Homo sapiens: one gene and its partners. The protein of the gene in region 1 purifies or fractionates together with the protein of each later gene. This does not show direct contact. Each region holds a gene or a part of one and is shown in the gene's direction. Other genes may lie near its edges.

The links.
Region 2: the proteins of PRKAR2B (region 1) and CRYBG3 purify together in Homo sapiens (affinity purification with mass spectrometry; 3 studies listed by BioGRID and IntAct, with this or other methods). This does not show direct contact.
Region 3: the proteins of PRKAR2B (region 1) and CSNK1D purify together in Homo sapiens (affinity purification with mass spectrometry; 3 studies listed by BioGRID and IntAct, with this or other methods). This does not show direct contact.
Region 4: the proteins of PRKAR2B (region 1) and AKAP13 purify together in Homo sapiens (affinity purification with mass spectrometry; 4 studies listed by BioGRID and IntAct, with this or other methods). This does not show direct contact.
Region 5: the proteins of PRKAR2B (region 1) and PRKX purify together in Homo sapiens (affinity purification with mass spectrometry; 4 studies listed by BioGRID and IntAct, with this or other methods). This does not show direct contact.
Region 6: the proteins of PRKAR2B (region 1) and PALM2AKAP2 purify together in Homo sapiens (affinity purification with mass spectrometry; 4 studies listed by BioGRID and IntAct, with this or other methods). This does not show direct contact.
Region 7: the proteins of PRKAR2B (region 1) and NAA25 purify together in Homo sapiens (affinity purification with mass spectrometry; 3 studies listed by BioGRID and IntAct, with this or other methods). This does not show direct contact.

Annotation. Positions count from the first base shown.
Region 1 is NC_000007.14:107,155,602-107,159,950, forward strand, and holds part of PRKAR2B (cAMP-dependent protein kinase type II-beta regulatory subunit), read left to right. Parts: intron 1-1,382; coding exon 1,383-1,448; intron 1,449-1,584; coding exon 1,585-1,723; intron 1,724-3,847; coding exon 3,848-3,981; 3' UTR 3,982-4,349. UniProt on the Homo sapiens protein: Regulatory subunit of the cAMP-dependent protein kinases involved in cAMP signaling in cells. Type II regulatory chains mediate membrane association by binding to anchoring proteins, including the MAP2 kinase.
Region 2 is NC_000003.12:97,873,162-97,877,510, forward strand, and holds part of CRYBG3 (very large A-kinase anchor protein), read left to right. Parts: coding exon 1-4,349.
Region 3 is NC_000017.11:82,242,382-82,246,730, reverse strand, and holds the end of CSNK1D (casein kinase I isoform delta), read left to right. Parts: exon of another isoform or gene 1-259; intron 260-265; coding exon of another isoform or gene 266-367; exon of another isoform or gene 368-533; intron 534-691; coding exon of another isoform or gene 692-724; exon of another isoform or gene 725-755; intron 756-1,899; coding exon 1,900-1,950; 3' UTR 1,951-4,064; downstream 4,065-4,349. UniProt on the Homo sapiens protein: Essential serine/threonine-protein kinase that regulates diverse cellular growth and survival processes including Wnt signaling, DNA repair and circadian rhythms. It can phosphorylate a large number of proteins.
Region 4 is NC_000015.10:85,582,929-85,587,277, forward strand, and holds part of AKAP13 (A-kinase anchor protein 13), read left to right. Parts: intron 1-2,773; coding exon 2,774-2,895; intron 2,896-4,349. UniProt on the Homo sapiens protein: Scaffold protein that plays an important role in assembling signaling complexes downstream of several types of G protein-coupled receptors.
Region 5 is NC_000023.11:3,657,500-3,661,848, reverse strand, and holds part of PRKX (cAMP-dependent protein kinase catalytic subunit PRKX), read left to right. Parts: intron 1-2,310; exon of another isoform or gene 2,311-2,362; intron 2,363-4,349. UniProt on the Homo sapiens protein: Serine/threonine protein kinase regulated by and mediating cAMP signaling in cells. Acts through phosphorylation of downstream targets that may include CREB, SMAD6 and PKD1 and has multiple functions in cellular differentiation and epithelial morphogenesis.
Region 6 is NC_000009.12:110,170,377-110,173,633, forward strand, and holds the end of PALM2AKAP2 (PALM2-AKAP2 protein isoform 3 (PALM2-AKAP2)), read left to right. Parts: 3' UTR 1-2,136; downstream 2,137-3,257. UniProt on the Homo sapiens protein: Binds to regulatory subunit (RII) of protein kinase A. May be involved in establishing polarity in signaling systems or in integrating PKA-RII isoforms with downstream effectors to capture, amplify and focus diffuse, trans-cellular signals carried by cAMP.
Region 7 is NC_000012.12:112,070,185-112,074,533, reverse strand, and holds part of NAA25 (N-alpha-acetyltransferase 25, NatB auxiliary subunit), read left to right. Parts: intron 1-2,469; coding exon 2,470-2,639; intron 2,640-4,349. UniProt on the Homo sapiens protein: Non-catalytic subunit of the NatB complex which catalyzes acetylation of the N-terminal methionine residues of peptides beginning with Met-Asp, Met-Glu, Met-Asn and Met-Gln. May play a role in normal cell-cycle progression.

The DNA of each region.
Region 1 (4,349 bases):
TGCATTTCTCTAATGATCAGTAATGATCTTTTTTTCATTTTTTTTTTGGCTGCATAAATATCTTCTTTTGATTCTTTTGAGAAGTGTCCGTTCATATCCTTTGCCCACTTTTTAATGGCAGAAATACCATTTGACCCAGAAAACCCATTACTGGGTATATACCCAAAGGAATATAAATCATTCTGCTATAAAGACACATGCACACATATGTTTATTGCAGCACTATTTACAATAACAAAGACATGGAACCAACCCAAATGCCCATCAGTGATAGACTGGATAAAGAAAACGTGGTACATATATACCATGGAGTACTATGCAGCCATAAAAAAGAATGAGATAATGTCCTTTGCAGGACATGGATGAAGCTGGAAGCCATCATTCTCAGCAGACTAACACAGGAGTAGAAAACTAAACACCGAATGTTCTCACTCATAAGTGGGAGTTGAACAATAAGAACACATGGACACAGGGAGGGGAACATCACACACCGGGGCCTGTCAGGGGGTGGGGAGTGAAGGTAGGGAGAGTATTAGGACAGATACCTAATGCATGCGGGGCTTAAAACCAGACAGGTTGATAGGTATAGCAAACCTCCATGGCACATGTATACCTGTGTAACAAACCTGCATGTTCTCCACATGTATCCCTGATTTAAAGTAAAATTTTAAAAAAAGGAAAAAAAAATTAGCTGGGTGTGGTAGCACATGCCTGTAATCCCAGCTACTTGGGAGGGTGAGGTGGGAGAGTCGCCTGAATCCAGGAGGTGGAGGCTGCAGTGAGCTGAGATTGCACCACTGCACTCCAGCCTGGGTGACAGAGCGAGACTCCATCTTGGGGGGGAAAAAGAAAGTATTATTTCAAATAATTTTACAAATGAAATCATTACTACATAATTGTCCATCAAAACCTCTTCATTTAGGGCCGGGCTCGGTGGCTCACGCCTGTAATCCCAGCACTTTGGGAGGCCGACGCAGGCAGATCTCGAGGTCAGGAGATCAAGACCATCCTGGCTAACACGTTGAAACCCCGTCTCTACTAAAAATACAAATAAATTAGCCGGGCGTGGTGGCAGACGCCTGTAGTCCCAGCCACCCAGGAGGCTGAGGCAGGAGAATGGTGTGAACCCGGGAGGTGGAGCTTGTAGTGAGCCGAGATCGCGCCACTGCATTCCAGTCTGGGCAACAGAGTGAGACTCCGTCTCAAAAAAAAAAAAAACCTCTTGATTTAGAAACCGAGACAGCTTGTTCCCTTAGGATTTCACTTTTCAGGTGAATATGTGTACTTTGGGGTTGGATCAATTTTAGGGATATGAAAGGTAACAAGATTGTTGTCAATTAATTTGCATTTTCACCGTCTGTTTTTGTTATTGATTCCAATAGGGAGATTCGGCTGATTCTTTTTTCATTGTAGAATCTGGAGAAGTGAAAATTACTATGAAAAGAAAGGTAAGCATTCTAAGTCCTCAGAACCCACATACTGTTAGCAAGGAACACAACAGATCTACTTTTTGATGTTTAGACTGAGGTTAATTTTATTTTTCATAAGCTGAGGAAAAGCTCATCTTTTTAATTGCCTTGTCAGGGTAAATCAGAAGTGGAAGAGAATGGTGCAGTAGAAATCGCTCGATGCTCGCGGGGACAGTACTTTGGAGAGCTTGCCCTGGTAACTAACAAACCTCGAGCAGCTTCTGCCCACGCCATTGGGACTGTCAAATGTTTAGGTAGGGATTGCAACAGTGGGCGTGCTTCTGCTGGTTGAACTTATGTCTGCATTTTATGTATTCATGTTGAGTGAATCATTTTATTGGGTTCACAGGTTTTGTGGTCCCCACAAAAGGTAACAAGATTAGGACTCATTGCCTTATAAAATCAATTTGTGGAAGCCATTTTTTCTTCGAAATTTTTACATCCAGATACATTTTGCTCTTCTTGTGTATATATGAAATAACATCCCATATTAGTCATTAAAATAAGAGTTCCAAGTACCACGTTTTATATGGAATCTCTCAAATAAGCAACATGTGCTATGTTCCTCAAAAGAGAAGGCTAAAGTACTATTTTTATAAAGTCCGTTATTAAGATCTGCGGGGAATGCTGAGATGTTGTGAGAATCCTTACTCATTACAGTATTGGGACACAAAGGTTCAGGTTTGTCAAAGCACAGTCAAATGTTCTTTGCTGTTCAGTTGTTATTACTATTTTACCAGAGTAGCTTGGCAGAAATGTCATCTTCAGGTGCAGGCATCTGTATATATCTGAGATTATATATCTGAGAAATCACTTACTTTGATAAGAAAATACAGTTTAGAAGGTGGCAATATGGAGGGTATTTTAAGAAAATTGATCTCACAGTTATTACCCTCTCTGTGCTTTTCATCCATAATTCAATAGCATAAACTTAATGTTTTTAAGATTTGCAAGGATCCTTAGAATTAACTTCTTAGAGAAGTCATTCTTTAAAAGGGTTTAAATAAGTATAATATTAATCAAGTGTTAAATTTGGATGGAAGAGAAGACGATTAGAAACTGGCAGGTAATTTCCCTAAGTAGGGCTATTAGAAAGAGTAAAGGTGAGTGAGTGAAAGTCTATTAGAAATAGTAAAGGTGAGTGAGTGAAAGTCTATTACAGTAAAGGTGAGTGAGTGAAAGTCTATTAGAAAGAGTAAAGGTGAGTGAGTGAAAGTCTGTTAATTTTTTTTCAATAATAGATTATTATACTCACATCAAAGAAAACCTGAGAAATACAGAAAATGTAGAAAAAACATAACACCGCCACTCAGTGATTTCTGCTATTATAATTCCTTCTTGTCCTTTTTATTTGTGTGGGCTTCCAGTTGTTAAACAGTTTTCCAAACAACTTTTAAAGTTCATTATCGCTTAGGAATGTTCTTATTTTATTACACCAAATTTTAAAATTCTTTTAGGTAAATATATACACGATAAATTAATCATTCCTTAGTGGTAAATACTTCGAAGGTTTTGGCTCCAACTTTTTTGTGGGGAGCAATTTTTTGTGCATAGAAGACTTTTCTGTATTATAGGAGTTTTCCTTAGAAATGGTTTTCAGGAGTGGGTTTTTAAAAAATTAACTTTTGACACATATTGCCAGATTACTTGTATTTGTACACTACTAGCAGTGCCATAATGCCCATTCACCCTATTCTTGTAAACATTGCCTTTTTTATCTTTTTATCTTTAGTGTAAAAGGCAAAGAAGATCTATTTTAATTTGTACTTTTATGTATAGAGTATGATCATATTTTCTATTTATATATTATAAATCCAGTTTTAAAATCCAGGAGACAGGCAAGCAAAGTGATTTCTAGCATGTACTTATAGAAGTAAACAAAAGCATTATGTCAGCTGCCATTTTTGGATTGCATAGACATAGTATGGCAGCAAAACTTACAAAAGGTTAACACTTGGCCTTCACAACATGGCATTTTAAACCCTGAGAAGGGAACACAGGATAGAAAACACTCTTGTGCCACCCTTGAGGAGTTCACATTGCTAAGGTGGAGACAGCACATTTATTTTTTAAAATTCTAAGGTCTTTCCATGATAGTCCCTCATTCTTTTCTCAGCTTGGACCAGGAACCTCCCACCAACTTAGCATTGCTCATCATATTGCCGAGGGACTGCAGAGTGTGGTCCAAGAGCGTGGCCCTGGCTGCTTCCTTTTTCAAGTGGAACATTTTTATCATTATGCTTTTTCTTGTATTTTATAGTATTTACCTAAAATATCATTGCACTATTGATATATATGGAGTCGGTATTGTAAATGACTTAGAAATTCTGCAGATTTGCAAAGAATGTTATTTAAAAAAAAATCTTCTCTTTTCTCAGCAATGGATGTGCAAGCATTTGAAAGGCTTCTGGGACCTTGCATGGAAATTATGAAAAGGAACATCGCTACCTATGAAGAACAGTTAGTTGCCCTGTTTGGAACGAACATGGATATTGTTGAACCCACTGCATGAAGCAAAAGTATGGAGCAAGACCTGTAGTGACAAAATTACACAGTAGTGGTTAGTCCACTGAGAATGTGTTTGTGTAGATGCCAAGCATTTTCTGTGATTTCAGGTTTTTTCCTTTTTTTACATTTACAACGTATCAATAAACAGTAGTGATTTAATAGTCAATAGGCTTTAACATCACTTTCTAAAGAGTAGTTCATAAAAAAATCAACATACTGATAAAATGACTTTGTACTCCACAAAATTATGACTGAAAGGTTTATTAAAATGATTGTAATATATAGAAAGTATCTGTGTTTAAGAAGATAATTAAAGGATGTTATCATAGGCTATATGTGTTTTACTTATTCAGACTGATAATCATATTAGTG
Region 2 (4,349 bases), on another chromosome or scaffold:
TCCTACCTTTGTTTCTGGAGTTGGGATGCTGAGCAAGTTGGATATTCCTGATTTAATGAATGAGGGTTCTCCTGTGCCCATTGAAACTGGGAATGTCAACATTGTTGGTATTTCCTATCAGCCTAGGAAGTGTAAAGAAGAAAATGTGAAAAACCATGTTGAGGCTGCAGGCAGGAAGAGTCCTCCTCCTTCCTTTTGCCTTGAATATACATCTGCAATTTTTGAATTCAAAGAAGTTCTTTCTAATAGTGAAAAATGCCAGGTTCTTCCAGGTTCTGAAGCCAGTGGCCCTCACTTAACTGGGTTGGAGCTATTGAGCTTTGACTCTGGAAACCTCTCTAAGGATTGCAGTTCCATTTTATCTCAAGACCCTAATAGAGTAGAGTTAGTGTCTTCAAACACTAAAGCAAATATGAGCATAATAGAGAAGTCTGATTCTCTTTCCTTGGAAGCCAAAACTGCTAACATTGTATCAAAAGCTGAAATTGATGGTCAGAACAATGTTCTTGTGGAGTCACATTCTGGAAGAGGAAAAACTATATCCTTGTCCAAGGTATCTCTTTCAAAAGTGGAGCCCAGAAACATTTCTCAGGATAAAATGTCTTCTTTTCCATTGAAAATTACCCATGTTCCAGAAAAGCCTATTTTGTCAGAATTAACCTTTCTAGAAGTTGAACAGGGCAAACGTTTTCAATCAATTAATCATAATGAGATAGGAGAGAAATGTTCAGATGCTGGCCTTAAAGAGAATTGCCAAGCTGAGCTTTCTCCTGCTGCCTCCAAATATGAAGATAAGCCAGAACCAGAGGTAGATGCCTTAGGCTCTCCTCCTGCTCTTCTTAAAAGTAATATATCTTGGATTTTACCACCTATTCATGATGAAAAAATCAGTAGGCAAATGGCGCAGAATTGTGAAGCTCACACTTGTGTGTTTCATCAATCTTTGGATATTTGTGGGACTAAAAAGATTTCTGGTCACTCAGAAATGGCGGAACTCAGCTTAACTAATATTTCCCCTAAATTCCAAGAAACTGGCAGCATGAAAGTAAATTCACCTTTTCTGGATTCTGATTCCAGTTTGGAAAAAAATTCTTCTGCATCTGAGGACTCAAGCTTCCTTAAAGTACCTTCTGTGCTGAAATTGGAAAAGAAATCCTCATCTTACAGAAAGAAAGAGAACATCCATTTTTTAAATGGTGGTATTGATAGTGTGTCATCTTCCTCTAGTTACCCTGAAGAAGTTAGCATGATAGTAAATTCACATAAGCCCCAAAATAATTTGGATTCTATACAAGTTACCAAAGATCTCACACATGAAGGTACCTCTGTAACTAACCTGTTGTACCCTACTACCTCTTATTTGGAATTTGAAACGTCTGTCTCAATTGGGACAGAAGTAACCCCATTTCAGGAACATTTTGGGATTTATACTGGGAAGATATCCATTGATTTCCCAACTGCTGCCCAATTTGACAATCTCGTGGAAGCAGAGACTGGAGCAGTTGCTGGGCCTGCAGCGTCAGTTAACAGCTCAGGCCAACAGTGTTCTGAAGCCTCTGCTGAGCACATAGAAGCCAGGAGAAGAGCACATGACCAACTTTTGGACCTCAAAAGTAGTTTACTCAAAAAGGCCGATACATTGATTGGTGAGATTTTTAATTCTGTCAGGGAAGAACTAAAATTCAAACACACAGTGAGTACCTGCCAGGAGCATATAGCCATAGAAGGTATAATGAATCTGGGTACCCTGAAAGAAGACATCTCTGAGAAAAACCCATCAGAAGTGACACTAACAGAAATACAACAGACAGAGGGTTTGGAAGAGCAAGGCATGGAAAACATGTCAGAAGTCAAAGAGAAGCCCTGTGTTTCACCAACAGTTGGTGAGAAGAATCTTCTTGTTGATCCTAATAGTATGAATGTATCTTGTTTGTTAGAAGATAAAGCTAGGGAATTAGTCAATGAGATTATTTATGTAGCCCAAGAAAAATTGAGAAATGATACTTTTGAAGATACTGAGGATACTTGGGATTCTGAACTTCAGGCTAATACTTCAAAAATTCTGAACAGTGATAGTGTTAAGCCACATGATGTAGTTAGAGAGTTCTTGGTTTCAGAACAGCCAGTAAATCAAAGCACACAAATTAGTGAAAATAAAGTATTAAATGAATTCTTCTCCCTAAGTAACTTAGCTAGTGGCACAGAGTCAATTAAGGGAGGAGAAATTGTTCTCTACCAAAAATCCCTATTTTCTGGAAATGGATCTGGACTGTCTGATAGTATAAATTTGCAGGAATCAGATACGGTTTTACTAGCTGAAGACATGTCACATAAACGGTTAGATGATAGGGTAAAAACACATTTATTTCGCAGTGAGGACTGTAATGAGACAATGGAAATAGAGAATGTGGATAATAACAAAACTGAGACAGAGGACAGAAGAACTCTTGTATTAAATTTCAAATGGCCTCCACTTGTGAATGATGACATCCATGCACCTGGTACATCTAAAAGCAGTTTGTCTGATAGCCTTGTATGTATATCTGAAAAAAACTTGCCAGGACACAGTAAAAACACACCTCTTGCAATGTCAGATGTAGGGAAAGTACACAAGAAGGATAATGAAATAAATATAGGGAAAATTGAACTTATACCTTCCATGTTAGAAACAGGGAAAACAAACAAAAAGGATGCTGAATTGAATATTCTGAAATATGAGGCAGTCCCTCCTATGATAGAAATGGGAAGAATACATAAAATGGATGCTGAATTGAATGTCACGAAAACTGAGCCAAAAGCTAATGTTTTTAAAATGGGAGAAGTATACCAAATGGATGCCGAGAGCTGTATTGAAAAAACTGAGGGATCAGCTGTCATTTTAGGAATGGAAAAAGCTTATAAGATGAAGGATACTGAAGGGGATATTGGCAAAATTGAGGTGATACCTATGATGCCAGAAGTGAAAAATATCCACCAAAAGGATGCTGAAGGGGATATTGTAAAGACTGAGATGACACCTGTTACAGTAGACATGGAAAATATTTACCAAACGCATGCTGAAGGGGATATTGGCAAGACTGGGACGATAGCCTTGTCAGAAGTGGAAAATATCCACCAAAAAGGTGGTGAAGGGATTAGTGAAAAGGCTGAAGTGATACCCGTTACATTAGCAATGGAAAATACTTACCAAAAGGATGCTGAAGGGGATATTGGAAAGGCTGAAGTGATGCCTGTGAGGTTAGAAATGGAAAATACTTACCCAAAGGATACTGAAAGAGACGGTGGCAAAACTGAGGTGATGCCCCTTGCATTAGAGGTAGTAAATACTTACCAAAAAAATGCCAAAGGTTTTACCGGGAACACTGAAGGGTCTGTGTTGAAAATGGAAGCTACTTACCGAAAGACTGCTGAAGAGGTCATTAAGAATACTGAAATAGTACCGTGTGTGTTAAAAGTGAAGGAAGCACACGAGACAGCACCTGCCCCCTTAGAAATGGAAAAAGCATGCAAGAGAGATGTTAAAGAGACTATTGGAGCAACTGTGTCCACACCCTCTGTGATAGAAATGGAAAAAATATCCCCAGAAGATCGTGGTGAGAATATTGGGAAACACAAAGTGTTACCCGCAGTGGTAGACATTGAGAAAATACATGGAACAGGACTAGAATTGACCACTAAACAAGGGGAGGCCATGCTTCCTGCATTTGAAAGTAAAACACCACAAGAGTATGCTGAAGGGAGTGTTGAAGAAACAAAGGAAGAGCCTACAGAAATAAAGGAAGGCTTGATAGCACATGAAAATAGACTTCCTACATATTTCAGGGGATATGAATCCCCTACATTAAGTAAGGATTATGAGGGCTACCCAGCCCCAGCAATGCCAGATTTTCAACCTGGGGATACCACAGTAAGACTAGACAAAAGAATGTCTCTTACTGCAATATATGACAAGAGGAGAGAGACAGATTATAGTGACAAAGGATATAATTTAGCTTTTGTTTCTCAAGATGAACAAGAAAATTCTTCCTTTACTATATTATACGAAGAGCCCCTTCAAGAGGAGGACAAGTATGCTTCCGCAGAAGCAAGACAAACACAGTCTGTCTTGTTTCATGATACGTCCGCTGACAGCATGCCTGTTCTGGCATGTGAAAGGTCTGAGAGTAGAACTGACCTTGTCCATCACTTTGAAAAAGGTACTAAATTAGGTGAGACATTTGATAGTGATAGTTCAGAAATGTTCTTATCAGTGGAGGCCAAAAGGTACAAAATTTATCCTTTAGCATTGTCTCCCATTTATGAGGATGACAGCTCACAGGAGGACATTCTATCTAGTGAGGTTTCACCTG
Region 3 (4,349 bases), on another chromosome or scaffold:
GGCTTGCTGGCCGTGGCTGGGTGTGGATGGGTGGAAGACCACGTGGCAGCCTGCCTGTAGGTCACAGAGGCCCCCATAGTTGTAGGGCCCCGCCCCAGCCCGGACTCCGCCTGGGTCTGTTCCCTCTTCGCCCCCTCTCTTTTCGGGCTGTTGGTGTTCGGCCAGGGCTCTTTGGCTACAGTAGCCTGGGCCCTAAAGGCCATCTAGTTGCTGAGTCTGTTTGGGGTTTTTACTTGGTGAGAAGAAGGCCTTGTCATTCCAACAGTCGATGACTCGCTTTGATCAACTCCTGCCCAGGACTAGGCCTGAGCCCTGTCGTCGTACCGGCGAGGATGTGCGTCTCCCCTGCCTTCAGGCTGTGCCCTGAGACCCAGTTGTGGGGCTGCCCAGCACCTGCCATCCTGCTGGGATCAGGTTTTCTTAGTGCTTGAGAAGACTCAGGAGGGCCTGTCCCATGCCATTGTTGGCCTTAAGAGCAAGTGATTCCAGAAGAGGAGTGGGCACCACTCTCATCCAGAGGCCCGTCCTGAGAGGCAAGTGAGGCTGTGCTCTGTGCCTGGGCTCCCCCAGGTGGCACCTGTCGGTCTGTGGACCTGGTTGAGGCAAGGATGCCCATCTGGACATGGAGCCGACACAGGTAGTCAGGGGGCCAGCGGGACGCTTACCAACAGCTGTCTTTTCCCCACCTCAGAATAGCATTCCTTTCGAACACCACGGCAAGTAGCTGCTCGTCTCCCATCGGAAGGCAGCACTGGGTGAGTGTGCGCGTGGCGGGCGCCAGGCAGCAGCGCCAGGTGGGTGGGAGCCACCATGCCCCACCCATGGGAGCTTGCAGGTGGGCTGGGCTTGCATGCCAGGTGCTGGAGGTAGAGTGAGGCTTCTTCTGCTCTGTTCTTCTTGTGGGGTGCAGAGCGGCGGCAGTCCGCTGCCCAGTCTTGGGGGGAGGCTGTCCACAGAGAGCTTTGGAACAGAGTGACCCCAGGAGACCATCCTGTTGGCCTGTGGCCTCCCCGTGACTGCGTTCCGTGTGCCGTTGCTCTCCTCCTGTCCTGGGTGCCCACCCGTGAGGCAGGAGTGGCAAGGCGGGTGCCCCGAGCACTTGAGTTGCCTTGTCTGCGGTCGGCCGTGCCTGGAGGGGCGTCTGTGTCCTGCTCAGCTGGGTGGCTCCACGCTTGGTGTTGGGGGCTCCTAAGCTCTTGCTGCGCCACACTCTGGGCAGTCTCTGCCATGCCAGCTTTTCTAGTCGCCTCTCTCTTCCTGTCTCATTTATCTCTGTCCTTGTTTTGTGTTTCTTTTCACACTTGGTCTCTGCCCAGCCGTCTTGTCCACGCAGCTTCGTCTGTATTAACTCCTCCAGCCGCAGCCCACTCACTCCCCGCCGTCGGTGCATGGCCGGCGTCCACGCTGTGCTCCCTCCTCGGCGGCCACGCGCGCTCGGCGGCTCCTTCCAGCAGGGGCTTGCGCTTCTGTCGGGTCTGTGCCGCTGGGAGACCCGCTGCAGTTTTCACACTGTGCACACTCTGGAAATGTGTTGACAGGAACTGCTTTTCATGTCTTCCCTGAGAGGGGTACCCATTTTCAAACACCAGGTTCCTTTCCAGGAAGGGAGGCAGGAGCACCCGTCTCCGCTCCACTCGGATCCTTCGACCCTGCCGAGCCCGGCTCCGCGGGCACCTTGCTTGCATGCCTCTTCCTCCTTCCCGTCTTCCTGTCACTCGTTCTGCTGAGCACGTGTCCCAGCCACAGAGGCCCCTGTGCGTGGCGGGGGACGCAGGCGTCTAGACTGGGGCTAGGCGGTGGCGGTGCGTCCCCTCCCTGCCCAGCACCGTCACTGTGGTATCTGCCTGGCCGGCTCCCCCAGCCCCATGCTGACCTTCTCCTGTGCTTTGGCTCCGACAGATTCCTGGTCGGGTGGCTTCCAGTGGTCTTCAGTCTGTCGTGCACCGATGAGAACTCTCCTTATTGCTGTGAAGGGCAGACAATGCATGGCTGATCTACTCTGTTACCAATGGCTTTACTAGTGACACGTCCCCCGGTCTAGGATCGAAATGTTAACACCGGGAGCTCTCCAGGCCACTCACCCAGCGACGCTCGTGGGGGAAACATACTAAACGGACAGACTCCAAGAGCTGCCACCGCTGGGGCTGCACTGCGGCCCCCCACGTGAACTCGGTTGTAACGGGGCTGGGAAGAAAAGCAGAGAGAGAATTGCAGAGAATCAGACTCCTTTTCCAGGGCCTCAGCTCCCTCCAGTGGTGGCCGCCCTGTACTCCCTGACGATTCCACTGTAACTACCAATCTTCTACTTGGTTAAGACAGTTTTGTATCATTTTGCTAAAAATTATTGGCTTAAATCTGTGTAAAGAAAATCTGTCTTTTTATTGTTTCTTGTCTGTTTTTGCAGTCTTACAAAAAAAATGTTGACTAAGGAATTCTGAGACAGGCTGGCTTGGAGTTAGTGTATGAGGTGGAGTCGGGCAGGGAGAAGGTGCAGGTGGATCTCAAGGGTGTGTGCTGTGTTTGTTTTGCAGTGTTTTATTGTCCGCTTTGGAGAGGAGATTTCTCATCAAAAGTCCGTGGTGTGTGTGTGTGCCCGTGTGTGGTGGGACCTCTTCAACCTGATTTTGGCGTCTCACCCTCCCTCCTCCCGTAATTGACATGCCTGCTGTCAGGAACTCTTGAGGCCCTCGGAGAGCAGTTAGGGACCGCAGGCTGCCGCGGGGCAGGGGTGCAGTGGGTGTTACCAGGCAAAGCACTGCGCGCTTCTTCCCCAGGAGGTGGGCAGGCAGCTGAGAGCTTGGAAGCAGAGGCTTTGAGACCCTAGCAGGACAATTGGGAGTCCCAGGATTCAAGGTGGAAGATGCGTTTCTGGTCCCTTGGGAGAGGACTGTGAACCGAGAGGTGGTTACTGTAGTGTTTGTTGCCTTGCTGCCTTTGCACTCAGTCCATTTTCTCAGCACTCAATGCTCCTGTGCGGATTGGCACTCCGTCTGTATGAATGCCTGTGCTTAAAACCAGGAGCGGGGCTGTCCTTGCCACGTGCCAAGACTAGCTCAGAAAAGCCGGCAGGCCAGAAGGACCCACCCTGAGGTGCCAAGGAGCAGGTGACTCTCCCAACCGGACCCAGAACCTTCACGGCCAGAAAGTAGAGTCTGCGCTGTGACCTTCTGTTGGGCGCGTGTCTGTTGGTCAGAAGTGAAGCAGCGTGCGTGGGGCCGAGTCCCACCAGAAGGCAGGTGGCCTCCGTGAGCTGGTGCTGCCCCAGGCTCCATGCTGCTGTGCCCTGAGGTTCCCAGGATGCCTTCTCGCCTCTCACTCCGCAGCACTTGGGCGGTAGCCAGTGGCCATGTGCTCCCAACCCCAATGCGCAGGGCAGTCTGTGTTCGTGGGCACTTCGGCTGGACCCCATCACGATGGACGATGTTCCCTTTGGACTCTAGGGCTTCGAAGGTGTGCACCTTGGTTCTCCCTTCTCCTCCCCAGAGTTCCCCGGATGCCATAACTGGCTGGCGTCCCAGAACACAGTTGTTCACCCCCCCACCAGCTGGCTGGCCGTCTGCCTGAGCCCATGGATGCTTTCTCAATCCTAGGCTGGTTACTGTGTAAGCGTTTTGGAGTACGGGGCCTTGAGCGGGTGGGAGCTGTGTGTTGAAGTACAGAGGGAGGTTGGGGTGGGTCAGAGCCGAGTTAAGAGATTTTCTTTGTTGCTGGACCCCTTCTTGAAGGTAGACGTCCCCCACCCGGAGAGACGTCGCGCTGTGGCCTGAAGTGGCGCAAGCTTGCTTTGTAAATATCTGTGGTCCCGATGTAGTGCCCAGAACGTTTGTGCGAGGCAGCTCTGCGCCCGGGTTCCAGCCCGAGCCTCGCCGGGTCGCGTCTTCGGAGTGCTTGTGACAGTCCTTGCCCAGTATCTAGTCCCCGTCGCCCCGTGCAGGAGACGTAGGTAGGACGTCGTGTCAGCTGTGCACTGACGGCCAGTCTCCGAGCTGTGCGTTTGTATCGCCACTGTATTTGTGTACTTTAACAATCGTGTAAATAATAAATTCATAATGACTTCTACCTTTCTTCCCTCCCCTTTCCATGTGGTCTTTATTTCATCAGCTTGAGAGTTTTCACTGTGTTGAGGTGAACTGTGTGAAAATACTTCTTTGAGATGGCTGTTTGTTCTTTCTCAGCCTGTGGGTGTCTGGGAGCTGGCAGAGCAGGAGAGCTGCCCCCTGGGCCTGCTGCCGGGCAGGGAGGGGTGGCGACTGCTCCTCGCCGTGCTGCCCCCTTGGGCTCTGTTGTGCACACAGAAGTCCACGCACTTTCTGTGTGACGGTTCTGGAGAGTCCCTGCCTTCTCGGGCG
Region 4 (4,349 bases), on another chromosome or scaffold:
ATCTGTGGGTAACCATGTTCCGAGGCAGCAAAGAGAAACCGCTATTGCTCCGTGGAAATAAACTATCTGAATAAAACTTCTTAACGGGGGTTGAGGCTGAAGCTGAAACGGGAGTCGGACACGATCTTGGCTCCTGAAGTCTTTAAAGGTCAGTTTGATGCACACTTCTATACCACCACCTGTTACCAGCTGTAGACAGAAGACCTATCTCCATGCTTGCCCCTAGGCTTTTGTAGGTAAGAAGCAGCCTGTTTTGTCTTTATTGTTTATTTTTGCTGTTCTTTTCAATTTTTGAAAATCCCTTTACACATATGTATTAAGAATGTGGGGGAGGGTTATGGAGAGAAATGAATCAATGGAGCAAAAGAAGTTGCTTTGGAAGAAGCGCAATTTAAATACAGTGGTTATTTTCCCTGGTAAAGGGCTTTTAGCCGTTTATAATCTTTTTCCTCCCCAGTTGAGGGATTTAAGGAATCCGAGGTAGAATTTTTGATGACTTTAGCTTTTTAGTTTTATTAATGTTTTGGATTGTTAGTGATAGATACTTGCTGGCTGTTGTCTCAGGATTTAAATGAGGTCTCTAATTTTTAAAAAAAGCCACAACAACAAGTCTATTTTGGGGGCCCTGGCAGGTTGGCATTTCAGAAGAATGGGAGTGGCTGTAAGCTGATGCCTGGTGATGTTCTTTTCATTTCGGTGCTGCGTCCTTGGCCACATGGGCCGGAATTATTTCTCTTTCTGGCTCAGTGGTCAGAATTTGACTCAAGCAAGTGTGAACTCTGTGGGGATTGTGTCTGTAGTATCCTATGAGAAAAAGTAAAAACCAGGGAGAATTTCAGACTTTGATTTTTATTAGCACATATAGTAAAGATGGTGAGAAATGACGGATGTTTAGGATTTTGAGGTTTTGAGAAGGAAGAAAAATGTATGGACTTTCAGCAGTATATATGGGCTTGAGGTTGGTAAATTTTGTGTAGGTGAGTTACTTGTCCTGTTACCAAAAGGAGTCATACTCATGGTCTCAAACTGCAGAGGAACTCTGTATTGATGGTCTCAGACTACAGAGAAAGTAGCCAGTCATGAAGAAATTGGTACTTTCTTCAGAAAATGGCCAGGATTGGGAAAATCCCTGGTCACATTACTTTAGAGAAAAAGCACCTGAGTGTGATCTCAGAGCCAAAGGGTATTTTCTATCAAGTTTACATTCTACTCATAGATTTAATCATACTGTTTTGTGAGTGAGAAGACATAGGTTTAACTGCTGATTTGGAAGGAGCCAGTTTGAAAGAAGGGGATGTGGCCCTTGACCCACCAAAAGCATTGACCACAGTGCTTAGGAAATCAGTGATGCATGACTGAGCCACGCCAGTCCTGCAGAGGCTGCCGACACCCGTCAAGTGTGAGTAATCACTGTTTTCTAGTGTGACTGGTTGCTGTGCCAAGATGCATCTTTTCAAAGTTGATAGGTATAGGAAAGGAAGGAGGTACCAAAAATCACATCCCCAGAGGAAAGCAACCCTCTTTCCCCCCAGAAATTACTCTGACTCACTTAGAGATGTTTTGATCAAGGGATAGTTCTAAGGGGATTGCTTAGTCAGATTTTAACTTTAATAACATTTTATGAAATTTAACACAGATTTTGGTTCTTTGGGCAAGGAAACTTGTTTACCCATTTTTAAACTGCTGGTAAGATTATATAATTATAAGGTCAAAGAAGGAAGAAAAGAGGTTCATCTATAGAAATGTAACTCTTACAAATTTAAGGTAGACTTTTGTACATGTCATGTGCTCCTAGAATAAAATCTTAATATAATTTATTCTTTGGTGAAAGAAACTTCTGTGCTCTTTAGTGTGGGGAGCATTTTTCTTGCCAGAGTAGTGGCATCACTAGGTTAATAACCACAGATGCATTTCCACATGAAATCGAGATGACAGTTCCATTTGCATTTGGATTATTAAGGTGAATTTTGACTGTTCAATCATGAGTCCCGTTTAAAGAAGTGTCAGAAGCCTAAATTTGCCTCAGACATCATTTATCATTTCCTTCCTGTATTTGCTTGACCATGTGGTGGTCAGGTAACAAAAACCACCACTGTTTTTGGTCTGTCAACATGGCCAGCAAGAGGACAACTATGTAATTCTTGAGAAAACATGCGCAGAAACGTTTCTCTTAAGAAAGGGATAGCTAGTCTGTGATTAGGTTTCAGTTTTGGAAGAAATAAGGGTTAAAAATAAGACGTAACTGCTGAGTAGTTCATTCTTACTGGTTACAGTGATGGGTGGATCAGAGTGTGTTGTATGTTAGTGAAAGTCATACTTGTCCCAGAGGCTTTTTCTCATTCTCAGTGGCTTTTTCCTTTTTGTTTTGTACAAATCCTTGCTTTTTTGATGATGGCCAAGATGGACTACCTAGCTTCAGCTATTAATCTGTTCCCCTGAAGCTTATGAATTTAGTTTTCCATATGCAAGTTGGTGCTACACTCAGATTTGTCATAAAAAGTCAATAGTGAAATGGATGTTCAAAAGACATTGAATTGGATCCTCGCTTAGTTCCAAGCGCCTACAAAGGCTAGGGAAAACCAGTAACCATGCGATAAAGGAATAGCTCAGCATAGGGTCAGAAATGACACTAGCCGCTGACAACAAAAGAATACTTTTCCATTTTAACGCAAAAGCAAAACAAAACACATGAAACCTGGAGCATGTTGTATGAATAGTAAGGCACAGGAATCAGTTTTTAAAAATGTACTCTGTAACCCCCCTGCACTTTCAGAAATGCCAGACGTGAAAGCTGAAGATGAAGTGGATTTTAGAGCAAGTTCAATTTCTGAAGAAGTGGCTGTAGGGAGCATAGCTGCTACACTGAAGATGAAGCAAGGCCCAATGACCCAGGCGGTAAGTGGCATCAGTAAGTCTATAAGGGCACAAAATGTGTTTATCCTGTTCTGCTGTGTCTTATTTATGGCTTTGTCTTTTATTTGAGGGTAAGTGGGCAAAATAGTATTTTCCCCCTTCCCTCTTGTGCTGTTATATAAATGTGTTTATGTTGCTGCAGCTAAGCTTTCATAAATGGTATATACCATACAGCAAAGTTTTGGAATGGGCTGTTACATGTTTTCTTATAGATTATGCTGAAAAACATTTTCCCCTTGAGCACAAGGCTTTAAGATTTGTCAGTAAGCTTAAATTGTCACAAAATCTGAGCTATCACAAAAGGGGATCTATAGACCTTTTCTTTCTTTTTTTCTTTCCTTCTTTTTCTTTTTCTTTTTTTTTTTTGAGATGGAGTTTTGCTCTTGTCACCCAGGCTGGAGTGCAGTGGTGTGATTTCAGCTCACTGCAACCTCTGCTTCCTGGGTGAAAGCGATTCTCCTGCCTTCGCCTCCTGCCTAATTTCAGCTGTGAGTAGCTGAAATTACAGGCATGCGCCACCATGACTGACTAATTTTTGTACTTTTTGTGGAGATGGGGTTTTGCCATGTTGGCCAGGCTGTTTTCGAACTGGCCTCAAGTGATCCACCTGCCTCAGCCTCCCAAAGTGCTGGGATTACAGATGTGAGTCATGGCACTCGGCCTATAAACCCTTCTTAAACCTGACTCTTCTTTCTTTATATAAAAACTGATAGCCAAAATGAGATTTTTACTTTATAGCTCAATAGTAACTGTCTAAATTATGAAGTATATCGTTTTCAGCAATGAAAAAACAGGTTCAATAGGCCAGACGCGGTGGCTCACACATGTAATCCCAGCACTTTGGGAGGCTGAGGTGGGTGGATTACCTGAGGTCGGAAGTTCAAGATCAGCCCGACCAACATGGTGAAACCCTGTTTTTACTAAAAATACAAAAAAATTAGCCGGGCGTGGTGGCAGGTGCCTGTAATCCCAGCTACTTGGAAGGCTGAGGCATGAGAATCATTTGAACCTGGGAGGCGGAGGATGCAGTGAGCCAAGATTGTGCCATAGCACTGTAGCCTGGGCGACAGAGCACGACACCTTCTCAAAAAAAAAAAAATAAGAGAATAAAAGGTTCAATCAACATTTTTTTTTTGTTTTAAGAATAGTTTGTTTTGGGATATGATTCACATACCATAAAATCCACCCAATCAAATAAAGTGCATAGGTCATTGGTTTTAAATAGATTTACAGAGTTCTGCAACCATCGCCACTAAGGCTCTAATTTCAGAACATTATCACTCTAAGAAGAAACCCCAGACCCATTAGCAGTGTGCCTTTCCTTCACTCTTCCCTCCCCCAGCTCATTAATCTACTTTTGCTTTCTGTAAATCCATAGAGAGATTTGCTGTGAGAGTGTGAAAGTGGCTGTAGATAGTACGTAAACTGCCCATTCC
Region 5 (4,349 bases), on another chromosome or scaffold:
CAGAGTCCCTCAGGTAACTGGAATCATTGAACTGATGCATTGGTTTCTAATTTTCTAAGCTCAGATTTGAAATCACCTGTGGTCACTAAACTCGTCCTATCCCACAGCCCCTGCACATGATGACTTAAGTTTTGTGAATGTTTTTTGGAGATAGTAAAGTCAGTATCTCTTTCAACATTTTGTTCCTTATCTTTAGTGATACCCAGCTCTGTACAAATTCTGTCCACGTAAGCAAAGTCTTTTTTTTTTTTTCCAGATAGGGTCTGGCTCTGTCACTGAGGCTGGAGTGCAGAGGTTCAGTCATAGCTTCAACTCCTGGGCTCAGGCTGTCCTGCTGCCTCAGCCTCTTAAGTACCTGGGACTACAGGCCTGCACAACCACACCTAGCTAATCTTTTTATTTTTTGCAGAGACAGAGTCTCCCTATTTTGCCCAGGCTAGTCTCAAACTCTTGGTCTCAAGTGATCCTCCTGCCTCAGTTTCCCAAAGTGCTGGGATTACAGGTGTGAGCCACCACACTCGCCTGCAAAGTCTTACTGATAAAAGATTTGAAGGAAGGATGTGTCAGAGAACTTCTTTTTTCTTATAATATTTACTTAATCTTATTGGTTTGGGGAAGGGCAAGAGAATCCCAGTTATCTAGATTTTTCTTTTTCTTAAAGGAGTATGTTTTTACTTGCTAACTCTCTTTGTAAACTGTTACTTCTTAAAGATGCTGAAGGGTGATCCCGCATTAGTGTATAGGTAAAAATGATGTCTCCATTTCATATATACTGATAAGGTGACTTTATTAAGCCTTGTGGTTTGTTGATGTTGATTTTACTGAGACACTTGTGGAACAGATGTATTTTCATACAACCTTACACATCTCAGTAGTTTTCCCCACTCGTGCAGTAACTTTTTCTCCCCTGCTTTCTCTCCTCCTCTCCCCACCTCTTCTTCCTTCCCCTCCTCTCCTCGTCCCTTCCCTCCTCTTCTCATTTGATACAAAGCCCTAACTCTCTTCCTCTACAGATCATCCTACCCATGGTTGAAATTGCAACTTCCCCTGCAAGCCAAGTGACCGAACCTGAGATGTTTGTATTGTCAGGGCTTGCGTATTCTACATGCCTGTGTAATCCTCAAAGTTCTTTCATTCCTTGCTTCTAACCTACCCAAATCCTTCTAATCTCCCACCATGGTTAATTATCTCTGATGCTCCTGAAAGGTGACCTGCTGCTACATTGTGACAAGGTGATGCATTATTCTTAAGAGGATCTGTGCAGATTATTATCCCAGAGTGAGGTAGATGGGGGAGGATACAGGATATATCCAAAAATGTGTTGCAAGCTAATTGATAGAGAGAGAGAGAGTGTGTTTGTATGTGTGTGTGTAAGCATGCGTCCATCTTTTTCTTACATATTTGAGCCATAGGGAAGTAGAGCCATGTATATTCTCTTCAACCAAATTAACAGTTGTAGACAGTGGTCTTGCTATTGCTTTGACTATTAATGGTATTTTCAAGAGCTCAGTGTTACCCCCAAATGTTCAGTATCACACCTTGGCTGGTCAGTCGTAGCTAAATTTTCCTTCCACCTTGCGCCCTGAAGAAATTTAGAAAGTCACCAGCTGACACAGAAGTTTATTGTAAAAGTTCACTAGTACGATAGTATTTGGACCTTGGAAAATATTTCCCCACCAGAACAGTGAAATCATGAAATCATGGTTGTCTTCTAAGCTCATCCACAAAAGTACAGTTTGACTGTCATGCATTTGAGATGCCATGTGCTTAATCACGAAATATTACTGAGAGGAACACTCTTGCCCAACCAATAACGGTGCAAAGCAGAAAAACAGGGCATTTAGCTGGGAGAAAATGAGTCGAGATGTCAGTGATAAGATGGAAGGAATGTGGGTATGTGCTGGGTCTTTTAGAACTCCAGCAGATTGCTCTGGAAAACAGCCACTACATACCAAAAGTAGCCGGTCATGGTGGCATGCGCCTGTAATCCCAGCTACTCGGGAGGCTGAGGCGGGAGAATCACTTGAACTCGGGAGGCGGAGGTTGCAGTGAGCCAAGATCGTGCCATTGCACTCCAAGCCTGGGTGACAGAGCAAGACTGTCTCAAAAAAAAAAAAAACAAAAAAAAAAACAAAAAAAACACCACTCCAACAAAATACTTCTCCTTCCTCATATAGTGTCCCTGCTTCCCTTTATGCCTCAAGACCACACATTTTGAACTTGCTGAGCTATAAGAAGTGAATGGAGAGGTGGGACACAGGTGCACAGCCTTCAGTAACTGAAGGAAAAAAAACAGAAGAAATGTCTAACCCTGAGCTTCCTGAGCTCCCTTCAGCCACCCAGCTGCTGAGGGGCAGGAATCCAGCAGCAAGGTGGAGAGCAGAAGGCATTCCTGCAACCTGTATGTGTGGGTCATTAGTCCCCCACCTCCAGCATCATTGCAGAATCTGCAAATTTAAAAGTGCGTTAGGTAAGAGCCTTTTTTATAAGAGGCCCATATTTTTGCTAATACATAAAAACATTGTGATTAGTCAAATAAATGTTCATTTAAAATTCACAGTAGCATGTGTCTATTTTTTTTTTTTTTTCCTTTTAGAAATGAGGTCTTGCTCTGTCACCCAGGTTGGAGTACAGTGATGTTGTGATCATAGCTCACTGCAGCCTCCAATTCCTGGGCTCAAATGATCTTCCCACCTCAGCCTCCCGAATTGCTGGGATGCCACCATGCCTGGCTGATTCTTTTATTGTAGAGACGGGATCTTGCTGTGCTGCTCATGCTGCTTTCCAACACCTGGCCTCAAGTGATCCTCCTGCCTTGGCTTCCCAAAGTGCTGGAATGACAGGCATTGAGCCGCCGTGCCCAGCCTATGATTTTTCTTAGCATTAATCTCTGTGTCATTGCAAGCTGTCTCCCACGTCCTTGCCTTCATTCTACATTGTTTTGGTGGAATGGCCTGTGCTAGCAGACAAGACCATCCGGTCGACCTTGAGCATCCTTCCCTGTCCTCAGGGAAGGTTTCCTGGGCCTCATTTTGTTTTCTTTGTATACCAGCGGGGTGCAGCTCATTTGAATGAGCTTGCAGGGGAGCATCTGTGATAGCATCATGATCAGATGAGACAAAACTGGCACGGGTCCTGGTCATGGTTGAAGACCTTTATGCTCCTGATTCTATTGGGTGTCTTCTACTGGTGAAGGCTCATGTGCTCATGGGAACACGGGCATGCTGGTGTCTTCCGAGTCCTCTCCAAAAACAAAGCCCAGGTCAGGTACAGTGGCTCACGTTTGTAATCCCAGCACTTCGGGAGGATGAGGCGGGAGGATTGCTGGAGCCCTGGAGTTCAAAACCAGCCTGGGCAACACAGTGAGACCCTGTCTCTACAAATAACAGTAAATAAAAATTAGCCAGGCATGGTGGCATGCACCTGTAGTCCTAGCTACTTGGGAGGCTGAGGTGAGAGGATTGCTCGAGCCCGGGAAGTTGAGGCTGCATGAGCCTTACCTGCACCACTGCACTCCAGCCTGGCAGACAGAATAAGAACCTGTTTCAGAAACAAACAGACCGGGCACGGTGGCTCATGCCTGTAATCCCAGCATTTCTGGAGGCCGAGGCGGGTGGATCGCCTGAGGTCAGGAGTTCGAGACCGGCCTGGCCAACATGGTGAAGCCCCATCTCTACTAAAAATACAAAAATTAGCTGGGCGTGGTGGTGGGCGCCTATAATCCCAACTACTTGGGAGGCTGAGGCAGGAGAATCGCTTGCACCCAGGAGGCGGAGGTTGCAGTGAGCCGAGATTGCACCGTTGCACTCCAGCCTGGGCAACAAGAGCAAAACTCTCTGAAAAACAAACAAACAAAAATCCCAAAGCCCTTAGTTCCAAATCTTGCCTCATACCCCACCCGTCCCATCTTTAGGTGAAAACGTTCTTTCATTATCAGTGCGTATCTCTCCAAACTGTATTTGTAACTTGTGCTGAGATGTTGAATGCACAGACGCACCTCAGTATCTTCTGTTCCTTCTTTCATCCCTACCCCCACCTTCCTCAATCTCTCATTGCTGCGTTTTCTTCCATTAATCAACACCTTTGTAAGGAGAAGCACCTCAGGCAAGCTCCCACAAGCAAGTGCTTCGAAATACTTCATTTGGGGCTTTTTAAAAGGGCTACCTTTTCCTAGCAGGTTTGGGATGCAGTCTGCTAGTTTATTGTTAATTCTCAGGCTTAATGATAGTTCCAGGTTACTGAATCAGGTGTGATCTCTGAAGATGTGTGTGTTGTAGGTTAGTTAGTTAGTGCTGCCATAACAAAGTAGCATAGACGGTGTGGATTAAACAACACTGATTTATTGTTTT
Region 6 (3,257 bases), on another chromosome or scaffold:
TATGTAGATGTTAACGCACATTTCCTTTGCTTCTTTTATTAGACTAGTGTTGACTTTGGGGGGGGACATTTATTCACAAATGAGAAGTAGGCACAAAGTAAAAAATGGAACCATCTACTAACAAGGATCCTTTAAAACTGCCAAGGGAGCTCTAACTTGAAGCCACATCCTACAGATGGCAGCCCAAATAGCACATGGGCAATTGGCACCATCTTTATATGGTTGAGTCTCCTGAATATTTTGAATGAATTCTCAACAAAATGTGCTAGCCACTGGGGACGCAAAACAAGTAAGATCCCTGTTGCAAGAAATTCATTTTATAGTGAGGGAGGTTGGCATGGAGACTAAAATTCTCAGGAAAATGAGATCCGTGTTAGATTAGAAGTCCTGATGTGAAATGGGAGGACTCAGGAAGGAGGATCGTCTTTACCTGAGGATTTCTAGCCAGAGGTCCCAGATGCCTGGGCTGAGAACCCAGCGATAAGGGGGCGTTCCCAAAGCAGACACAGGGATAAGAACAGAGGAGGCAGCAGCATTGCACAGCCCCAGGCACAGTGGCAGTTAGGATGGCTGGAGAGTAGGATAGTTCTATGGGTTGCCCAAAAAATGTGATGCGCTTCATGTTTTCTCTGACTCATGGATCTGGTAGAGACCATAGACATGATATAGACTAACTTCCCCATTTTTCACAAGAGGAAACCATCCTTATGACTTACCTTAAAGTTTTTTGTTCTGTTTTGAAGGAAACCATGTGCTTCATGAAACCTACAGTTGACAAGAGAATGTACAGCTAAGAGAAAAGCTTAAGAGGCCACACTATTCGCGGAATGGCTTTAGAGGCAGATGAAGTGGTCTTTGACCACAGTTGATTGAACCAGAGCACTTATTGCTTAAAGAATAACAGAGTTCTAGAGCTGGGGGTTCTTGGGCCATGCTCCGTGTGTGGATAAGGAAAGAAATACTGTTTCTGGGACTCTCCCACAGTCACAAAGCTGTTTTCACTGTGGCCCCTACATCTCTTAACTTTTGCTATTACTCCTATGCTGCCTTCCGGATTACTGCTGTCTATCTTCTTGCTCCACTCACTGAAGATCCTATTATAATCCCATGAAAATGTAAATTACAGTTTACTTGGGAGAGCCAGATTTTCTCTGTGCTCTTGAGTTTTTTATTCATTCAAGAAACCTTGGGCCACCGCTTTGTACATAGCACCGTGCTAGGCTCTGGGATCCCAAATGGACCCTTTTAACTTTCTGAAGATGGGACCGTCCCCTGGAGGAAAGTCATTCCTGCCTAATCCATCGAGAGAAAGAGGCTTACGAAAAACTTTGCCTCTGATGCTCAGCCCCACCCCCAAATAGCACACAAGCTTGTTAACCCCACCTCTTACAAAATGTTTAGATTCTGTAGGTGTTAAAAGCCTTTCTGGAAGTATTGCATTCTGCCGTGTTTATAGGTGTTCACTTTCCTCCAGAGCTGATTAACTACTGACATGACTTGGCTTTCTCATCCAGAAATTATGGAAACAGGGTCTGTCAGTGGCAGGAGGCCGTGCTGTGTTTTACTTGGATGACACAATGCAGTTTACTTGCCTCTTCATACCCATGCATGCTGCTCACCCTAGACAATGACATATAAGCCGTATATAGATCAATGTCCACATATATATACACACACACATATATATATATAAAGTGTAACAAGGAACACTAAAACAGTGTTGATTCTTGTCTCTGAAGACAAATAATTAAACCTTTTTTTTCCCAACTAAAGAATGGATTTAATTAAACTATGTATTGAAAAAAAAGTAGCCTAAGTGTTAGAGATGGTGAATATATTCCATTTTAGTTAAAGAACAAATTTCCTGAATTTTAAGCATTCAGTGAGCTGCCAATTTTGATTTTGTGTTGCTCTTTACCCAAATTATTTTTTCTTTGTTTTTCTTTTTTTGGGGGAGGAGGGGAAAAAAGCAGCAATACTGTGTTTGGAAATTATACTCTGTATCTGGTTTTCCTGTGTATGTTAACCACTTAAATGTTATTATCCTGCTTTGGTTTTAGAGTGATTGTGAGGCATTCAATGCAAGTATACAGTTATTTTCTCATTAAAATCCAATGTGTGTTGAGTTTTTATAAATAATGGCTGCTTGTTTGACCGTGAGGGAGGTTGGAAGACTGGGCCAAACAGTGGCACGCCAGCGTCCTACTTGGCCGCTACTGTGTGACAGCTTCTGGTTCCTCATGTTTGCAACAAAGGAATCAATCCGAGCTGAGGGGGCACTGCTGCACCAGGCTGTTCCCACAGCCCCCTTTTCAATGCTGTCCCCAGCCACCCTGGCTAGATGCCAGAAGCTGCAAGTGCCTCTTAAGGACATAGACTCGAAGCCACAGCAAGAGCTGGACAAACAGCAGGACGAACGGTAAACTCCAGCCTTGCCTGTAGCTTTTGGCTCTAACCTTTAGAATACATTATGAGCACCGGCCGGGCGCGGTCGCTCACGCCTGTAATCCCAGCACTTTGGGAGGCCGAGACGGGCGGATCACGAGGTCAGGAGATCGAGACCATCTTGGCTAACACGGTGAAACCCCGTCTCTACTAAAAATACAAAAAATTAGCCGGGTGCGGTGGCGGGCTCCTGTAGTCCCAGCTGCTCGAGAGGCTGAGGCAGGAGAATGGCGTGAACCCGGGAGGCGGAGCTTGCAGTGAGCCGAGATCGCACCACTGCACTCCAGCCTGGGGGACAGAGCCAGACTCCGTCTCAAAAAAAAAAAAAAAAAAAAAAAAAACCACATTCTAAGCACCTGTATTTGGCTCTCCTCTGCAAGGAATAGCTGATGGCTACATGTTGACATGAAGGACTCCTTTTGTTGTATTCAACATAAAGCCCCTTTCCCCAAACTCTTACTCTGGTTTCTTTATTTTCCTACTCTTCGACTACCCCCAACTCTTTTTCTTTTTCTTTTTCTTTTCTTTCTTTTTTTCTTTTTTCTTTTTTTTTCTTTTTTTTTTTTTTTTGCTAGAGCTTTATTGTGGTATAATTTACTTAACAAAATTTATTCATTTCAAGAGCATGCGAAGACCACAAGTTTCTCAGGAAGCGTCCTCCCTTCTACTTCCTCCCTCCCGCTTCAGTCTCCGGCTGCTCCATCCCATCACCGAGCCCTGGGCCCCTGACCCCTGACCATCAGTTTTCCTAGTCTTTCCCTCGGCCCCTCCTCTTCCTGGTACTTCCTTTCCAGCTGCCTTTTTCTCTCTCT
Region 7 (4,349 bases), on another chromosome or scaffold:
AAAGTATAAAATACACAAGTTCATTCTAAAAATCATGTTAGTGCCAAAATATGTGGTGTGCTAATTTCCACTTATCCTACCATTCCAAAAATAACTCTTGTTAATAGTTTGGTGCCTTTCCGTGAGATTTATTTCCATCTTTATGCTAAGATAATTTTTCTTTTTCTCCTTTTTTTTTTTTTTTTTTTTTTTGAGATGGAGTTTGGCTCTTGTCACCCAGGCTGGAGTGCAATGGCACGATCTTGGCTCACTGCAACCTCTGCCTCCCAGAAGCAAGCGATTCTCCTGCCTCAGCTTCCCGAATAGCTGGGACTATAGGTGCCCACCGCCGTGCTCAGCTACTTTTTGTATTTTTGGTAGAGACGGGGTTTCACCGTGTTGGCCAGGCTGGTCTCAAACTCCTGACCTCAGGTGATCCACCCATCTCAGCATCTCAGCCTCCCAAAGTGCTGGGATTACAGGTGTGAGCCATTGCGCCCGGCTTAATTATTCTTATATTTAATATAAAAATGGGATTGTATTAGACACGATTTGCAACCTGTTATTTTTCAGCCTTGAAATATATCTTGAACATCTTTCATTTCTGGTACATGTAGATCTCTTTCATTTTTTTTCCCCCCAGTGGCTTAAGAGTACTCCAGATGTACCATAATTCATTTAGCATTTTCCCTATTGATGATACTTGGATTTTTGAAGATCTCTTTTTTTTTCCTTTGTCCTTTTGTTATTGGCTATTGTAGGCAGTACTACAATAAATTTTTTTTCCTTTTTATAGGCATCTAGAGTTAAATGAATAAATGGGGCCGGGCACAGTGGCTCACGCCTGTTATCCCAGCACTTCGGGAGGTGGAGGCGGGCGGATCACAAGGTCAGGAGATCAAGACCATCCTGTGAATGGTGAAACCCCATCTCTACTAAAAATACAAAAAATTAGCTGGGCGTGGTGGCGGGCGCCTGTAGTCCCAGCTACTCTGGAGGCTGAGGAGGGAGAATGGCGTGAACCCGGGAGGCGGAGCTTGCAGTGAGCCGAGATCGTGCCACTGCACTCCAGCCTGGGCGACAGAGCAAGACTCCCTCTCAAAAAAAAGTGAATAAATGGGATCTTTTAAAAAATTAATACAGAAGTAAAATTCAAGATGACAGTTATGAGCTGATGCTTGCTTCGTAATATTAACTAGGTTACCTAATTTTTCTCAGTTTTCATTCTTAAAGCAATAAAATGTACAAGACCCCATCTCAAAAATATATGTGTGTGTGTGTGTGTGTGTGTGTATTTAATTTTTAATTTTTGTTTTTTTTGAGACAGGGTCTCACTCTGTCACCTAGGCTGGAGTGCAGTTGTGTGATCTTGGCTCACTGCAACCTCTGCCTCCTGGGCTCAAGTGATCCTTTTGCCTCAGCCCCAAAAGCAGCTTGGGACTACAGGCATGAGCCACCACGCCTGGCTAATTTTTGTATTTTTTGTAGAGATGGGGTTTTACCATGTTGCCCAGGCTGATCTTGAACTCGTGAGCTCAAGTGATCCACCTGCCTTGGCCTCCCAAAATGCTAGGATTACAGGTGTGAGCCACCGTGCCTGGCCTTTTTTTCTTTTTGAGATGGGGTCTTGCTCTGTCACCCAGTCTGGAGTGCAGTGGTGTAATCTTGCCTCCCACTGTAATCTCTGCCTCTCAGGCTCAAGTGATCATCCCACATCAGCCTCCCAAGTAGCTGAGACTACAGGTGTGTGCCACCACAATTGGCTGCTTTAAATTTTTTGTAGAGATGGGGTCTCCATGCATTGCCTAGGCTGGTCTCAAACTCATGGGCCCAAGCAGTCCTCCCACCTCAGCATCCCAAAGTGCTGGGATTTTAGGTGTGAGCCACCACACCCAGCCTTATATTTTTATTAGGCAATTTTTTTTTCTTTTCTTTTTTTTTTTTTTGAGATGGAATCTCTCTCTGTCACCTAGGCTGGAGTGCAGTGGCGTGATCTCAGCTCACTGCAACCTCTCCCTCCTGGGTTCAAGCGATTCTCCTGCCTCAGCCTCCTGAGTAGCTGGGACTACAGGTGCATGCCACCACGCCCGACTAGTTTTTTATACTTTTAGTAGAGATGGGGTTTCACCATCTTGGCCAGGCTGGTCTCGAACTCCTGACCTCAAGTGATCCGCCCACCTCAGGCTTCCAAAGTGCTGGGATTACAGGCGTGAGCCACCACGCCCAGCCAGGCAGTATTTCATATATACAAAATTATGCATTCTTTTTTTAAAAAGGTAAGTTATGCTGCAGTAATCAAATGCCAAAATTGAGAGTAATCTTATAACATGTTATCTGTTAGAATATGTTCATAGTTCTCTTTTATTCCTTTTTCTATTATTTTATATTATCAAAGTCGTTTTTCTCTTTTTAAATGAGTTTGGCTTGACTTTAAGCTTCGGGAAGGACAATAGAGGCAATAAAATTCCTTTTTCATGTGCTTTTCCTCAGCTCTTTAGAAGGAGAAGTACATTATTCTGCAGAAAAAGCTGTGAAGTTTATAGAAGATCGGATAACGGAAGAATCTAAAAGTTCTCGCCATCTCCGAGGACCACATCTAGCTAAATTGGAGCTGATTAGGCGTTTACGAAGTCAAGGTTGTAACGATGAGTACAAACTGGGTAAGAAACCATGATATCTGGTAAGCCTGGAGAATGCCCTTAATACCCAAGTGCTATATTCATTAGTTGAGATCTACACTGGACAGAGTCATGTTTGGGAAGCAGATGTCTTCATAGCCTGAAAATATTTGCTAATGAATGGATCACTTATAAAATTAGTCCTTTATCATATATTCACCTTGGCTTAACATTAACTTATCTCCCTGTTCCGTCAGAGTCTTTGTCAGGCATTCTGTTGCTGACCCAACAATAAAGTCAAAATCAGCTGGTTGCGGTGTCTCACGCCTGTAATCCCAGCACTTTGGGAGGCTGTTGTGGGTGGATTGCTTGAGCTCAGGAGTTGGAGATCAGCTGGGGCAACATGGTGAAACCCCATCTACAAAAAATACAAAAAAATTAGCTGGGCATAATGACGCACATCTGTAGTCCCAGCTACTCAGGAGGCTGAGGCAGGAGAGTCTCTTGAGTCCAGGAGGCAGAGGTTATAGTGATCTGAGATCGTGCCTTCACTCCAGCCTGAGCGACACAGCCAGAACCTGTCTCAAAAATTTAATTTAAAAAAATAAAAAAACCTGGCTGGGTGCATTGGCTCACACCTGTAATCCTAGCACTTTGGGAGGCCGAGGTGGGCGGAACACCTGAGCTCAGGAGTTCAAGACCAGCCTGGCCAACATGGCCGTAACCCCGTTTCTGCTAAAAATACAAAAAATTGGGTGGATGTGGTGGCTCATGCCTATAATCCCAGCACTTTGGGAGGCCGAGGTGGGCGGATCACCTGAGGTCAGGTGTTCAAGACCAGCCTGGCCAACATGGCCGTAACCCCGTTTCTCCTAAAAATACAAAAAATTGGGTGGATGTGGTGGCTCATGCCTATAATCCCAGCACTTTGGGAGGCCAAGGCGGGCGGATCACCTGAGGTCAGGTGTTCAAGACCAGCCTGGCCAACATGGTGAAACACCGTCTCTACTAAAAATACAAAAATTAGCCAGGCATGGTGGCACACGCCTGTAGTTACAGCTACTTGGGAGGCTGAGGCAGGAGAATTGCTTGAACCTGGGAGGTACAGGTTGTGATGAGCTGAGATCTTGCCGCTGCACTCTAGCCTGGGTGACAGAGTGAGACTCTGTCTCAAAAACAAACAAAAACAAAAAATTATCTGAGCGTGGTGTCGTGCACCTGTGTCTCAGCTACTCGGGAGGCTGAGACACAAGAATCGCTTGAACCAAGAGATGGAGGTTGCAGTTAGCCAAGATCGCGCCACCGCACTCCAGCTTCAGCCTGGGTGACACAGCGAGACTCTGTCGCAAAACAACAAAAAATTAAAAAAAAATAAAAACAGTCAAAAACAATAAAGTCAAAATCAACTTCAAAGTAAAATTGCCAGTTTGGGAAAAGTTTCATGAAGTGGATGAAAGGTTTCTTGAAAATCTGCTTGAAGCACTCACAAAACTATTGACAAAAGAATATTTGGTGGAATTAGCAATTTATAACTGAAGAGAAAATTTACTAGGATAATGACAAGATAGCAGAAAAGAATGATGTGGATAGTAAAGCATTGAGAGAATCCTTCAGGAAATTTGATGAAGCCCTTAGATCTTTTTATAAAATGATTCTTTATGATCTTATTGCTCAATAAGTAAAGGATATCGTCATTGTACTAGTTCACAATTTTGCTGGAAAAACTACCACCTCCCTAAAAGAAAGCAGTAA